Regions from separate parts of the Homo sapiens genome. Here region 2 is linked to region 1. Evidence: fine-mapped expression QTL. Tissue or cell type: lung. Region 1 holds a variant in brackets; the other region holds the start of a gene. All regions are shown on one strand. Distances are between the middles of the regions.

Region 1 (8,102 bases):
GGCGGGCAGGGGGCCACCTGAACCTCTGTACAGCAAAACAGTGTTTTCCTGGGATCTCCCTCTTCCTGTTGTTCTGTGAAAGCACCTACCAGCCATGTGAAAAGCCACCCGGCTAACCACCCACATGCAGGCGTCTGGCACAGGGTGGCTCACTGGCCGTTCAGGGGTCGGCCCCTCCTGATGTTTGCATGTCCCCCTTGTGTGAAACTCAGATTTAATTTGGTGATTATTAAAGTGCAGGAACCTGGGGCTGGTAGAGGTTTTTTGTCCACAGATTTTGCAAAGTGCCGTTAAAAAAAAAAATTCATACGCTTTGTTGCTACCAATAAAGAGAAAAGGAAAGAAAAGAACTTTGGTAGAGAAACATCGAGAGATTTTAATATGGAGATGGGGTGGGAATTCGACCTTGGAAAACACAAGCGATCATGTGAATAGGATTTTGGCCTTTTCTAACTTAGTGTGTGCTCTGCTCTTAAGATAAATACACACACACAGAGATAGACATGGCATTTCATTTTCGGACAGTACATTCACGTGTTCGAAAATTAAAACAACATACAGAGTAAACTCTTGCCCCATCTCTCCCATCTCCCATGCCCTCAGATGGACCGCTAGTTTCTTGTGCTCCTTTTTACAATATAAGCAAATAGGAATTTCAATTCTTATTATAACAGAGGAGATAATAGCATGCAATACATACCTTGCTGTATCTTGTTCTCTTGAATAGTAAACCCTGGAGGTGTTCTCATGCCCTTTTTTTTGGCTGCACGGTGTTCCACTGCACAGATGTACCCACTTTGTGGGGTCCCCTGCCGACTCCTCCGGGCTGCTTCAGCTGTGAATTTCACGTGCATGAGTCCCTTTGGGCATGGGAGATCCGTCTTCTGCAGGGTCCGTTCCCATTGGGATTGCTTGGTCACACGTCGTGTGCCTTTGGCCTCTTGGAGGATGTCGCCAGGTTAACGCTGTAGGAGCCCTTCCTCCCTGCATCTCAGAGGGCCACGTTCAGGGTGGTTTGTTTCCCACCCCACCTCTCAGTAGAGGCTGGTCCAGCAGTTGACATTTTCACAACCAGATAGGTAAACGGTTTCTCTGTCATTTTAGTTTGCGTTTTTCTAATCAGTTGAACATCTTTTGTATATTTAAAGGCTATTTTTATGTCCTTTTCTGTGTTCTTTTCATTTGCCCTTTTAAAATAATTGTGTCGGCCGAGCGTGGTGGCTCACACCTGTAATCCCAGCACTTTGGGAGGCCGAGGCAGATCACAAGGTCAGGAGTTCGAGACCAGCCTGGCCAATGTAGTAAAACCCTGTCTCTGCTAAAAATACAAAAAGTTAGCCAGGTGTGGTGGCGGGCCCTGTTTTCCCACCTACTCAGGAGGCTGAGGCAGGAGAATTGCTTGAACCCAGGAGGCAGAGGTTGCAGTGAGCCGAGATCATGCCACTGCACTCCAGCCTGGGTGACAGAGCAAGACTCTGTCTCCAAAAACAAAAATAAAAATAAAAAATAAAATAATTGTGTCATTGGTCGTTTTCTTCTCAATTGTATATTAGGGAGATTAATTTTTGCCTGTGATATGAGTTACAAATATTTATTACTAATTTGTTCTTTGTTTTCTGACTTTGCTTTTGACATTCTTGAGCTTTATTGAGATATAATTCATATACCACACAGTTCACCCATTTAAGGTGTACAACTTAGTGGTCTTGAATATATTCACAGAGTTCTACAGCCATCACCACAATCAATTTTAGAACATTTTTATCACCTCAAAAGAAAGTCCATACCCCTTAGCAGTCACTCCCCGTCCCCTTCAGCCACCACCACTCCCAGCCACTGGCAACCACAAAACTGTGTTCTGTCTCCATGGGTGTATTAGTGCGTCCTCACGTTGCCATAAGGAAATACTTGAGACTGGGTAATTTTAAAGGAAAGAGTCTTAATTGACTCACAGTTCCACATGGCCGGGGAGGCCTCTGGAAACTTACAGTCATGGCGGAAGGGGAAGCAAACACATCCTTCTTCACATGGCGGCAGGTGAGAGAAGTGCTGAACAAAGCCCCTTATAAAACCATCAGCTCTCGTGAGAACTAACTATCACAAGAGTAGCATGAAGGTAACTGCCCCCATGATTCAGTTACCTTCCACTGCGTCCCTCCCACGAAACGTGGGGATTATGGGAACTACAATTCAAGATGAGATTTGGGTGGGGACACAGCCAAACCGTATCAGTGGGTTTCCCTATTCTGGACATTTCATATCAATGGATCCATGAAATATGTGGCCTTTTGCGTCTGGCTTCCTTCACTTAGCGTCATGCTTTCAAGGGTCATCCACACCGTAGCATGTATCAGTATCTCCTTTCTTTTTATGGCCAAATAATATTCTGTTGTACAGCTAGACCACATTTTATGTGTCCATTCACCAGTTGATAGACATTTGGGCTGTTTCTACTTTTTGGATATTTTGAATAACACTGTTGTAAATGTTTGTGTACAAGTTTCTACATAGACATATGTTTTCATTTCTTAGACATGGAATTGCTGGGTCTGATGGTAACTCTGTGTTGAACATTTTGAGAAGCTGCCAAACTGTTCTCCGCAACGACTGTACCATCTTACATTCCTACCAGTGCTTTTGGCATTTTTTGACATGTAAATGTTTTTATCAAATTTATTACTTATTTCTTTTATGGCTCTGGATTTTGAGTTTTAGAAAGGCCTTTTTTTCTCACGAGATGATAAAGGAAGTCTCCTGTTTTCTTCTAGTACTTTGATGGGTTATATTACACTCTTTGGTCTGTGTTGAGTTTATCTTGTATGTGGTGTGAGTATGGAGCCAGCATTTTCTTTAATGTAGCTGCCTGTCTGTTTCAGTACCATCTGTTGAGAATGCCATCTTTTCTCCTCTGCTTTGAGATTCTACCCTTATCATATACCAAACTGGGTCTATTTCAGAACATTCTGTTTCATTGGTCTCTGTAGGTATGCATGTACGTTCATACTAATATGCTGTTTTAGTTATGGAGGCTTAGTAATGTGTTTTGGCATATTATATGGTACGGGCTAGTCTAGGAGGGTTAGCTTCCCCACTGTTCTTTACAGAGTTTTCCTGACTAATCTCACTTGTTTATTTTTTCATTAAAAACTTGAAAATTAGTCTGTCTTAAGACCATGGGGATTGGGAGTACTGTTGATATTTTAGATTGGGATCATATTAGACTTCTGAATTAATTTAGGGAGAATTTACACCTTTTTGAGGTTGAGTCTTCCTATCCCTCACACAGGATTTATTTCTATTTGTTCAGTCTTGCTTTTCTGTTCTTTAAAGTTTTTTTTTTTTTTTTCTATCAATTTTCCCAGTTCTTATAAGTTCATTCCTGGGTATTTTATCTTTTGTGTTGCTGGCGTGTCTTCTTGCTCTTGAAAGCAGATTGTTGTTAGCAAGAGTGGTTGGATATAAGCAGAGCTCCCAGACCCCTTTGCTGTGGCCTTGCTGTGTCCACAGAGAGACAGAGGCACAGTTGTGGGGTGGAGTGTGGGAAGGGGGGATCGCACCCTTGGTGGTCTCTATTTATCCCTCCAAACACTTCTGAGGCTTTGAGGCTCTTATTAGCCTTGTACACATGAGAAACTGAGGCACAGAAGTTTAATGATTTGCCAAGTTCCCTCAGGGCACACCCGAGCTGGGATTCCAGCCCAGGCCTGTCCAGCCCATACTACCCCACCGTCCTGCCGGAGGACTGCATGCTTTCCTGAGCACAGCCCAGAGTGATGGGGTGCGATTGCACATCACGCAGCTGTGCAGTCTGGGGCATGTCCCTTCTCCTCACTCGGCCTCTGTCTGCTCATCTGCAAGAGTGGCTAAACCAGTTGGTGATTTGCTCACTTCTCCAAGAGTGTGCCCTCCATGGAAGACAATATCTGGAACAGAGTTGTGAGCTGCTGGGGTGGAGCCCAGAGGCCGTGCTCAGCAGTCCTGTCTTCAGCACCCCGATGTGGCCCCAGGCAGCTGAATGCGAACGAGTGCCCACCAGCCCCTCTGAGAGCCTTGGACATACCTTCTGCATCGCTAGTCCTGCTCAGAAGCCACCCCCAAAACTGTGAGCCCTGCTGGTCGACTCTATTCAAGGTCTGTGGGCGCAGGCAGTACATTAGCCTCGGCCCCCCGCCAGAACCCTGTGTGCTTTGGAAAGGTCCCTTGACTTTTGTTAGGCAAAGAATTCTCTTCACGCCAAGCTGCGAGCGAGGTGGTTTCAC[G/A]AGTCCTGTCCTGAGTGTGTGCTGGCTGGAATGTACACCACAGAAACAAAATGTTTGTTTTCCAATTGTGAGAGCACCGGGAGGCCCTTTGGCGTCAGCTCCCACACCTTCTGTGTTCGGGCAGGCCATCTGCCATCTGGGGCCTGGTGCAGAAACGTCGCCACCGTGTGGCCTGTGGGGTGCCCTCGGAGAGGGGCCCCTGGGTTGGCCACCATTCAGAGGACACGCGTGGCTCTGGGCCTCCAAGGTCTGTTCTTACCCACGGCATCCTGGGGTGTAGGCCTCAGGACCCCAGGGCTGTGCAAACAGAGGCCCAGTTGGGAGGGCCGACCGGGTGGGCCCTTCCTTCCTACCTACCCTCTGCCCCCAGGCTGCACGATGCACCCACTGTGAACCAGGCCGTGGCATGTGGGGTCAGGGTTCCCTGCACGCTTGGCAGGAAATGGGGTACACACAGGAGCTTGGGCCTGCTTCCGGAGTGGCTGCTGCAGAGGCGGGTTTTGGTGGGAGAGAAGGAATCTGCCAGTGAAGAGGGAGACAGGGCGGGGCCGTCAGGATGGTGCTGACCCAGGGCTGGTGCAGAGGGGGTTTATGTGGCTGAAAGAGGTTTGCTATAGAAGGAGTCAGAGCCTGAGTGGGAGCAGCAAGGGCGGAGGGCCCAGGAAGCAGAGCCTGAGGAAGAGGGGCCTTGGGAAAGGCCAGCCCGAGAGTGGTGGCCGGGCTCTGGCCTGCGTGGCGGGTTTGGCCCGATGAGCACCACTCTGGTGAACTTGACAACTCCCCAGGCCAACGGAGTGACTTTCTAGGGCTCCGTTATGAGTAACCCTCTGTTGCTGATAGCCCACGGGATGAGTGGAGTCCACAGGGCACCTGCTGGAGCCCACGCTTGCCTTCCTTGGGTCTGGCAGGGGAGATAGTAGGCTGGGCCTGCTGGCCCTAGGTCCGTCTTCAGAGGCCTGGGATTTTAGGTGTCTGGGCTGGGGATGGGCTGTCCCCAAGATCAACTCCTCCTTCCCCCACTCCTTCAGCCTCCGGAGGCCATAGGTAATTTTCCTTAGAGTCCTTGTCCCCAGCTGGGTCCTAGGCCTCGAGTTACCGTAGGCAAGGCTACACTGTGTAAAGAATCCAGCGGGAGGGGTGCCCCCAGGATGCACAGCATGAGGGCCCCAAGAGAGCCACCAGAGCGGGGACAGCAAGGCCAAGGGATGGCTGGGGGTGTGGAGACCATGGAGAGAGCCCCAAGCTGGTGCCACCCTTCCCGAAGTGACTCAGCGTGGCCTGGACTGGCCGCCACACAGCATACCTGGCTCTGGCACCACCTGGGCCTCCCAGATCTGGAGGGGATGTCAGATTTGGGGCAAGATACCTTGTCCACAGAAAAGGAAAAATGGCGCCTGCCCTGTGAGTCTGACCAGTCTGAGACAGTGCCGCCAAAGTCTGTCCCCTGCTGTACTGGCTTCTGGAACGGGGTGACCACAGTCTGGCTGGCATGTGGCAGGCGCTCAGTACACATTTGTTGGCCTCTGCAGAAATGAGCTAAGGAAACTGTCACAGGAAGGTGGGAACTTTCCTAGTAACTGACCAGGGCCAGCCTTCCACCCTGAAGATATTTACCACCCCCACTGGGCCATTTGCTTCTAGAACCTGTGGTCTGGGAAGAGTCTTGAGTATCCATTGCCAAATCAGTGGAGCTTCCAGGGCCCTGGAGTACCTTCCCGCTCCTGGCAACCTGATTTCCCTATTTTCAGGCCCTGGCAACCTGGCTTCCCCATCTGGGTTTTGCTGCCAGTGTTGCCCTGATTCCTGAGGGTAAGGAGGCAGTCCAGACTCAGAAGGGCTGCCTCTTTGGGGTCCAAAGGTGGTAAGCATTTCACAAAAATGGGCTGGGCATGATGCTGTCCCCCGCTTTTCTTTTTTTGGAGAGACAGGTCTTGCCCTGTTGCCCAGGCTGGAGTACAGTGGTGCAATCTCGGCTCACTGCGACCTCTGCCACCTGGGCTTCAGTGATCCTCCCACCTCAGCCTCCCGAGTAGCGGGGACCACAGGCATGCGCCACTATGTCAGGCTAATTTTTAGTTTTTTTGGTAGAAATGGGGTTTTGCCATGTTGCCCAGGCTGATCTCAAACTCCTGGGCTCAAGCAATCCACCTGCCTTGGCCTCCCAAAGTTGTGGGATGACAGGTGTGAGCCACCCCGCTTGGCTGATGCTATCCCTTTTTAAGACTGGGCACCAACACGGCCCTGGGCGAGCAGCTGACCTGGCCTACACAGGAGGTGGCTGGGCAGCAGCAGAAGACCAGATGCCCAGGGGAAGGGCCCTGCAGAGCCTGGGCAGTCAGCCCCTAGGGAAAGGTTGGCCATGCCCACAGCCTTCGAGGCATCTCTAGCACCTGCAGCCTCAGAGGAAAAGAAGCCACCACCACCTGACCCCTCTGGCCCCAGGGGCAGGGGCAGCAGCTTCCTGTGAGAAAGAGTACGGCCTTCACGCAAAATCCAGATTTACCAGAGATGGGTTAAAGATGGGCCAAAAATATGCTTGTGCCTTTTTTTCTTTTCTGAAATAGTTTTTTAAAAAGCCTAGGAAACCACATGCCTTGCCGTCTTGGTTGTTTCTGTGCCAGCTTCCAGCACAAATGGGACTTAGAAAATTTCCAGGCTGTTGGCCATCCATTCTCATAGCCTGGTGTTTTCTTGATACTTGGAGAATTCTGTTCTCATGCAAGCGTCTGTTTGGGGAGGAAATGCGTCCACTCAGCCAGAGCCTGGGGCCCCTGCAGCTTTCAGCAGGGCAGCTGCCAGGCCAGGCTGGGGACCAGCTCTGCTCGTGACTTGTGAGTTGGGCTTGTTGATGGCCCTTTCTCAGAGGGACTCGAGGTAGCTCCATGAAGACCTCTAACACAGAGCGCCATAAAACTGGACTAAAAAGAGGGAGAGAGCAAGGGAAGGAGGAAACGCAGCTGGTCCCGCCATGAGGAGCAGTGGCACAGGAGGGAAGTGGTCTTCGCTTGCCCAAAAGGGAGGCACTTGAGCACCTCTGGGAGACGGACTTGGCGCAGGCAGGGGCCCAGAGGAAGCCTCATGTGGGCACTACACTTAAGACACCGACTAACCGAGGAGAGGCGTCCCCAACAACCACCCCTCCCCAGCACATGCCAGGCAGGCTGGGGCCAGGAACTGGACTCCCCACAGGGCCCCGTGGCCAGTCTCTGACCATGGCTTGACATTCCCGTTCTAGAAAGAATAGTAGTACTAAGAAGCAGGTGCATAACCTATAACTACATTAACACCCAGGGTGCTTTTACCTGTGGCTTTAGATTGGGTCTCTAGAAGCGGGGCCTGAGCCGGGGATTCTCGTGCCAGTGACACAGAGAGGGATGCTCCCAGCAAGAACCTTCAGGGAGGCGAGGGAAGCCCATGAACTGCAGAGGCCCAGGAAAGAGGTGGGCTCAGCTGAAGTCGCTTCTCAGCCTGGTGCTTTGGGAGCTGCGAAGTGTGACTAGCACGTGGGACTTGATCCCGCCCAAGAGGAGGGACAGCTCCTGTCCCTGCACCTGTTGGTCATTGGCTGGGGGTGACCCCAAAGGGAAAGGGTAACCTCCTTCCTATCCTAGATCTCCCAGCCCAGAGTAGTTCCGGAAGGGGCAGCCATGAACTGTCAGAGCCAACACTCACAGCAGTGGAGAGTGGGCACTGCTGTGGGTTTGGGACTCCAGGTGGGACACCAGCAGCCTGGCTTTCCTCTTAGGATCCTTGCAGTGGCCCTGTGAAGCAGCCTGGCCAGAGACAGCAGTTCTGCTTCCCAGGGGAGGAAACGGGAAGTGAGGCCACTTGGCCAGTGGAGGA
Region 2 (8,102 bases), 110 kb before region 1:
AGTTAAGAAATTCACAGGCTAGTATGTAGGCTAAATGTTCTTTTCGTACTGCTCCCAGGAATGTTCTGCCTTTTAGAACTAGAGGCTGATTTCTTTTCTTGACATTTTAAATCCAAAGGATTCAGCCTTTAGATTGGGTTTTTAAGCTCTGTGAAATCACCAACTGTATCTAGTTTTAGTTTCCTTTCTACCTAATGAAAATGAAATTTACTCAGTTTCATTTTTAGGGGGAAAGGCAGGAGAGCAGTAGCTTTGAGCATATCACTAGGGATGAATTCAAAATCGATTTTTCTTGAGGCAGTGACTTATGGCAGATAGTTGACAAGAGAAAAATTAAGTTTTGAGCTTATATCTCAAATACTGAATGTGAATTCCACTAAAGAATATTTAAGAAAAAAAGTTGAAATGGTTTCATTTAAAGATGGTAACATAAACATTTAGCCTGGTCTACAGTTGAAATATTTTCTAGATTAAATGCAATTTATAATATAGCAATATGAAAATACTGTAATTTGTTTTTAGATATGTTTTTGGTGGGGTAACTGAAGCAAACTAGGGAACTCACCATGTTATAATGATAATAATTAGCATCTACTTCATGTAAGATCATAAACAGATGCTTTTGAACCTTAGTATTAGGATAATAAAATAGGCTTAATAAGTTTTACTTATGCCATTTACTTTGATTGTAGATAGTGAAAAGCCTTTCTTACACTTTTTTAAAGCTTTTTATTTACCATACATAAACTTTTAAATGTTTGTTATTCATGCTTGTGTTTTCTTGTAGCACATAATACCAGTAGTTACTATTAACTTTGAAAAAAAAATATGAAGTTGAAATAAGTTTTAACTGTTGCTCTGTTCTTTTTAGCTTACTTTACCAGAACTCTTCCCTCCAGTGAGTTGCAAGCGTGACATTTGCTGTGTTTTCAGCACCTGCCAACTTGGAAAGCAGGGTTTGTGTTCAGGACTTAGGCTCACAACCCATACTTTGTGGTGCACAATGCTGGCCCAGCTGGCATGCTTTCGTACCTCAATGGTGCTAGACAGTCAGTTACAAAGCTGTGTGGCTTCACATGCGCTGATCTCAATAGTCACTCCTCTTCAAGCTGCTTTCAACTCTTATTTTGTATCAAAGGAGTGGGATTGGTATTATTAAACTCATTGCTGAGGTTATTTTTCAGTGAAAATAAATTGTTTTATTTAGTTCTTGGATCAAAGAGTAATTTTGTCCTCAGCAACCAAATACCTCTTTAAAAAGGTGTGTGTGTATATATATGTATCATTCATGTATGTATGTATGTATGTATATACACACATGCATGATTCCAGCCAGAGCTATAATTCATTTCTTATTTTCATCAGTGGATAAAAAGAACAGACAGGAAAGAACAGAGGGATTAATGTGTCATGTGATCCCTACATGCTAATGTAGGTAGGGTTACTAGTTGTAGCTGGACAAAGATGTGGGAAAATTTACAGAACTTTTTTTTCTGAGTAAGACGTGAAAATTGCCCCCATGATAGGTTCAGATTTTTTATTTCCATCTGTAACCAGAAACTTCTTATATTTTCCAAAGAAGTATATTTTGCTAACATATTTCCAGTCACCTATCTTTTTGAAAATACTTAAGGTGGACTTGGTGATGTCTGTCTTCTCATAATTTATTATAAGCAATTTTAAAAAGGTTCTGCTTTTAAAAAGATCTTTTCAAATGTAGAAAGAACAGTGTGAAATGTGAATGACTGGCTTTTAATACAAGGGTTGTGACAAAGAGGCAGTGGCTTTTGGAAGCCAAATAAAGGGGTGAATACACGTGCATCTGCATACTGCTGTTGGATCCAGTGTATAACGTTTGGCGTTTGTTTAGTTCACTTGTTAGTCTAAAAAGGATAGTATGTTATTCTCTCAAACCAGTTTATAATTTTTTAGTGGTAAGCTCTTTTTACAACCATACCTACAGATAGATTTGATGGGAAAAACTGAACATTTGCTGGTACTTGTTCAAGCCTCAAAGCTCAGCTCTTTGTTTGAACGTCACATTTATCTGGTTCTAAAGGCATAAAAATAAAACACCCACTAACTACCTAAGACACTCCTTAGTGCATATCAAAACCCAACCTTTACCCTCGTCTGCACAAATGTGCTTAGGTGAATACTTTTATTAGCTTGTTGATACAAGTTATAGTAGGTTACACCCTTAATAAAACACACCCTTATTGTCATCCTGTTGCTTAAGAGCTTTAAACTTGTAATAGGGGAGCTCTCTAATATAGAATGATACTCAATTTCTATCTCCCAGGCAGTTTTGAGTGGAAATGTGTTGCACACCTTACACACAAGTGTGCCTCTATTTGGTAGTCCTCCTTTGGGAGAACTAGGATTGCTGTGTTTTATCCCTGGCTTTCATATATTTTTTGTTTGTTTGTTTGTTTGTTTTTTGAGATGGAGTCTTTTTCTGTCACCCAGGCTGGAGTGCAGTGGTGCGATCTTGGCTCACTGCAACCTCTGCCTCTCAGGTTCAAGCGATTCTCCTGCCTCATACTCCTGAGTAGCTGGGATTACAGGTGTCTGCCACCATGCCTGGCTAATTTTTGTATTTTTAATAGAGATGAGGTTTCACCATGTTGGCCAGGCTAGTCTCAAACTCCTGACCTCAAGTGATCCGCCCGCCTTGACCTCCTAAAGTGCTGGGATTACAGGCGTGAGCCACTGTGCCGGGCCGTCATATATTGGTCTTGATGTAAAAGACTGCAAGTAATCCCTGCATTTTATATTTCCCAGGGTGTTCTCCGGCTTAATCAGGTTAGCGTTGGTTGGTGATAATGGAAAAGTTACAAGTAATAGTTTTTAGATTATTTATGGATTTATTCCTAAATTGGCCTATGAATTTGCATTTAGGTGTCTGGTTGTGTGCAAAATCTGGTTTTGACCATTTTGGATTGAACAAAGATAGACAGTTTAGCTCCATGTCCCCACCCCATTGCAGCTTTTACATAGCTTTAAATCTAGAGTTCTACATTTTTAGCTACTCTTCTGAATTGAGCAGAACTCTAATATAACAACAACCTTTTGGGTAGAATTTTTTCTTAGTAAAGAACTATGGAGCTGAGCACTAAGAAGTGAGGATGTTTTATAATATAGCTGTAGGATTATTATATCATGTGGGAAGAACCTATAGTATGGAAGGTTAAGTGTGACACAGGTCTTAATGTATGCATATCTTTTTAGCCTTTGGAGATACAAATCTAGAAAATGAGAAGTAACTATTTATTGGTTAATAGCATAACTTCTTAAGCAAGTATATTCTAGACAGCCTCAAGAAAGCCTCAGAACCAGAAAAACAGGCTGCTTTAGGTTGGAAAGGAGGTGTTACAGCAGAGGAACTGGCCATGACCACCATCCTTGGAATGTGAAACGCAAATCATCCTGAAAGCAACAAGAATAATGGTTGTAATAATTGTTTCCAGGCCTGGGACCCTGCATCTTGTTTTTTAAGTTGACCTGATGAACTAGTAATTGTAGGAATAAACTGAATGTTTGCCAGCAGGAGTCACTCTAGGCTTCCTAATAAAACGTTAGTAAATTAAACTCTGTCCTTAAAGCTCTGAAAGGCTGAGGTGATTGTGTGATATCAGATGGCTTTAGGGAAACACTGACTCTTTTCGTTAAGCATAGCAGCATTCTTAGATTATTCCTTGGGCCTTCTTTTGTTCACCATCGGTTCTTGGATCTTGTTCCTTTCAAGATTGGTCCTTAATGCATTTTTAAAAAGCAACGTATATGGGTAAGGATATCAATATCTTAGTATGCTGTATTCTGTATGTTAGCTCATTTTGGCTTTCTAGGATGAACTGACTCTATCCCACATCATGTAACTTGAAATGAATAGACTCATATCCTTTCCACTGATTGCTGTCCATTCTAATCATGCAGCAGAACTCAGTGGAGCGAGCTGTAGTGTGAAAGGAGATGTCAGTTCATGCTTTTCTGAAAAGAATGGGTCCGGTGTGATGATATTCTGAAATATTTCAGCAATAGCCATGAAATATAATAGTTTCCCAAGCACACAAAGCTCAAGAAGTTAATTGTTCATTTATGTTTGATACTGGGATTGAAACATTGGATTAAAACCAATTAAATGTTCCTAGAAGCAACAGAAAAAGTTTCCTTATTTATGAATAGAACCATTCAAATGGCGCAGACACAATCCATGTAAAGTAATGAGGTGTTTTGTTTTTTTGGCAAAGGAGAACACAAAACAGGCATAGGGAGTTTTAAAAAAACTTCTCTTTAAAAATCGCTTTTTGGATACAAGGTCAATAAAATAACATACACCAGTAGGAAGGAGTAATGGGAAATCTAGGGCTTCACAAGGAAAACAATCCCCCTCCCCCAGGTGAGCAGCACAATGAAAATACTCTGCTTATTCTATCAGGGTTACATTCCTGAACTTAAGTCAACATCCTAAGTTACAGAACTAAACATGCTCTGCCTCTGCTTAGCAACCACAAATCCTTCCTTCGCCAGTTGCATGTATTTTGGATGTGGCTTCTGAAGTACACAGTCACAGCGCCCCGAGTTAGGAAATTTGCGCTTTATTTTCCCAAAGTGTGACAACACTTTAAGGTCCCCCCTCCCCGACCCCACCCGCCCGCTGTCCTGCACGCCACTGAAGTGATCGTTTCTTTTGAACCTCGGCATCTAACAACCCGGAAGCTGGACGCCTGAAGCCTATGCGGCCCAGCGTTTTCATCCCGGCTCGTGCTGGGGGCGGGGAGAGAAGCCCGTAGGGCCTCTGGCGCGGGGCCCGGGCAGCCGCGGTGGCGCGGCCCAGGCCCGGGGCCACTTCCCGCGTCCCGGGGCCTCGCAGGCGCGAGCGCGGCGAGCGGCGCGCGGCTGAGCCCGCAGGACGCCCTCTAGCCCCGCCGGCGGCGCGCCGCGAGTCCCTCACTCCCCGCCCATCGGCGGCTGCGCGCACTGCACACTCGCCTGCCGCCGCCGCCGCACGCCGCCTGCCTCCTGCACGCCGCCGCCGCGCCTAGCGCCCGGGCCCGCGACACCGCCCGCTAAGCGCCGGGCCGAGTTCACGCAGCCGCGGTCTGGCGGCTCCGCGGCGGCGGCGGGTGCGGGCGGCCTGGCCGGTGCCGGTTAAAGGGACGAGTTGCAAACACTTCAGGAAGTGACAAGTCGATTTCCTCCTCCCCGGGAGTCGCTCGTACAAAGCGCTCGGCGCCGGCAGGCGAGCGTGCGCGCGGCGGACGCGCGGCGGGCACCCCGGACGACTTGGCGAGCGCTGGCGGTGACGGCGCGGGGTCCGCGCCCGGAGCGCCCCGCCGCGCACAGTAAGCGACCCGGGGCCGGGCGGCGGCGGCGGTGGCCGGGGGGCTGGCCCCGAGCGAGGTCCGGGCCGTGTGCGTCCCGGCCGCTGGCTGGAGGGAGCCCGGCTCGCGTGCGCAATGGGCTTGCCTTTTTTTTTTCTTTTTTCCTAATGTTGCTGGTTTCCTTTTTTTCTGCCTTGTTTCGCCTTTGGGTTGGGTCGGGCGGTTTCTCCGGGCGCTCGGTCTCGCCCCTGATGCAGGCGTGAGACTTGTCAGAGCACAGGCATGGGGAAGAACAAGCCTGGCTGCGGCGGAAAAGTCTGCGCTCCCCAGGCCAGGGCGGGCGGGCGCGGGGACTGCTGCGCCCGGGGGTGTCCTCTCCGCGTCTCAACTTGAGCCCTGACTAGCCGCTGCGGAGGAGGCGCGGAGTCTCGGGAGCCGGGCGGCCCCATTCGCCCCGAAGTTCCCGCATCGTTTGCAGACAACTCTTTTGTTCGCGGAAGTTTGCACCCGCCACCCCCGGGGTGCGGGAGCGAGGCGGCGGGCTCCGCTGCTGCTGGACTGTCCGGGGCGGTCAGGATGGGGGTGAGGGGGCATTCTGTCCCGGGCGGGGGAAGCCCGCGGGGAGGCCACCGCTGGGGCTTGCGGAGTGGGGGCGTCCGCGCCGGCGTGGCTTTTGCACATGGCGAGAAGGGCCGTCCGGCACAGGCACACTGGTCGAGTCACATTTTTGCTAGTCTTGGATTTTGCAAGCCCGTGGGAGTCAGGTTCCCCGCTCAGGGTTTCTCTTGGGGCAGAGACGAAAGAAACGAGGACACCCAGAATCCGGGGAGGGTTTGCGGTTTGTGTTGTCCCAAGTGTGTTCTCGCTCCCCCCGCCCCCCCACCTTGTCCCCCAGCCCCCAGCTCTCCACCCCCATTTTCGGACTTGGGGAACAATGCTTGTAGTACGGGCCGGGGCGCCGCAGCAGCGACGAACCGCGCGGACAGGTTTGCCCGGGTCCCTCGCGTTCGGACGCCCCCTGAAGCCGAGCTCCTTCCATCTGACCGCCCGGGCTCATTAACACGTACTGTACTTAGGACGATGGTGAACAAAGAAAAGCTCTTTGCAGCGTTTGATGAATGGGATTCTGCCTCCTATAGGCCACACTCCGAGTCTTCCATACGGTACAATCTCCGGACTCGGTGGTGTTAGGAAAGTGGCCCCCGGAATGGCTTGCATTCCGGGTCTGGGATCCTGGGGTGGGCATTTGTGCCGTCGCCTTCGCCGCCGCGCTCGCCTTGCAGGAGCGGGTGCAGATGGAGCCAGGCTGACGGTTGTTCAACAGGAACAAATGTTTGTTCAATTGTTGGATGGTGGAGAAAAGGGACTGTTTCCTATTGACTGCTGCAGGAGTTGGAATGGCATTGTTTATTGGCCTGGGAAGCCAGGCAAGCGTCTTGTGCTGCTTACAACATATTAGCAGACTTCCAAATGACATGCTAGCATATGTGTTCCCAGCAGTCCCCACCGGCTGGCAGGGAGATTCCTCCTTGCTCCAGATCCTGGACTCGTTTAAAAGATGCCACCTGGTTTGAGGACTTGGGAAGGAATGGAGTCAGCCGACCAGGTGAAACTCACTGTTCCTTATTAGGCCAGGTTTTTGTTTCATTTTAATTTATCTATTTAAGAGTAACTTGTGTCAGTTACAGTTTTGATATTGAATTGCAGGTCTACAGGGTCCCCTCCCCCGCCTCTAGCTGTGGACTACAGAAACAGCTACTTGTCCCAGTTGATAGTCCCATTCAGTGGGAGAAGGTTTGGCTCAGGATTGGTAGCCCTTGACTCTGTGTCTGCACTTGGCTGTCACCCATCATGCGACCTGGGAGTCTGCCGATCCAGCTTCCAGGCGCTTTTTCAGGTTAAAAAGCTAAGGAGAGGCGTGGGGAAGGCCTGTATTTTTTTCTTCCAAACGTTCCTTCAGAGAACGAGGCGATTTAAATTCAAATAATGTTGCCCAACGACTTCCTATTTTCTTCTGAGAAGGTGAGATTCATGTGCAGTCATTTTGATATCAAAGACAAGTTTTTAAATAGAAACTAGCAACCTCACTGCTGCAGAAGTGGACTTGAATGTTCCAGTCTTCTCAGGACAAAGTAGAGAGCATTCCACTGTCTTGGTTCATAATGTTTTAAATCAGTTTCCCTCTTCTCTTTTCAACGTGGGGTATGTTGCACATAGCATTTTGAAAGTACGCAAAGTTCTTTTGGAAAGAGCTTTATGATACCTTATTGTCACCGTGGTGGTTACGCTTAATTGACATTTTATGGGAAGTCCTGGTATTATTTCCTGGGCTCTTTCTGTTTCCATCTTTTAGTCTTTCTCTTTCCCCTTATATATTCTCTCACTGCCCCGCTAGCCTCTCCATCCTCTCTACAGAAGCCTAGTGGGCTTGGGTTCCTTTAAGCGGGTCCAGTGAGCAGGCGCCTGACCCTTGATTGAAGCTCAGGAAGGGCCAGCCTGCTCTCCTCCCCTTTTGGAGGCCAGAGAGGAGAGAGCTGTGTTTAAATATTAGGAGCTGGCAGCAGGGGACGCTGCGGAGCTCTTTTAAAAAGCACACTCTTCTCACCCACCGCTCGATGCCTTGGGCCCTGAAGACTGAGTTCTGGGCCCACCTTCAGATTGTTCAGTTGATGTTTTATTTGGGCAGCGTGACTTTCTGCAGTTAAATTGCGCATTGTATGGAAAACTCTTCTGTTCTTGTCCTTAAATAAAAAGACTGAAATAAGCAAATACTCAGAT

Evidence for each region. PIP is the estimated chance that this variant, and not a neighbour inherited with it, causes the effect.
Region 2: FAM53B starts here. The variant in region 1 is fine-mapped to the expression of FAM53B in lung (TOPMed, PIP above 0.99).

The regions. Positions count from the first base shown.
Region 1 is chr10:124,628,491-124,636,592 of GRCh38, reverse strand. The region is part of intron 4 of FAM53B (family with sequence similarity 53 member B); the gene reads left to right. Among named protein-coding and RNA genes, the nearest start is that of FAM53B-AS1, 71 kb to the left of the region's middle. RefSeq lists an enhancer at 5,890-6,742. The variant G/A (reference allele first, on the strand shown) is at 4,260.
Region 2 is chr10:124,741,256-124,749,357 of GRCh38, reverse strand. FAM53B (family with sequence similarity 53 member B) reads left to right here and starts at 4,980. Exons shown (of 5, transcript NM_014661.4): 1 at 4,980-5,345. RefSeq lists enhancers at 104-303, 7,979-8,098 and silencers at 4,742-4,881, 5,012-5,061, 5,082-5,191, 5,242-5,401, 5,722-5,931 and 1 more.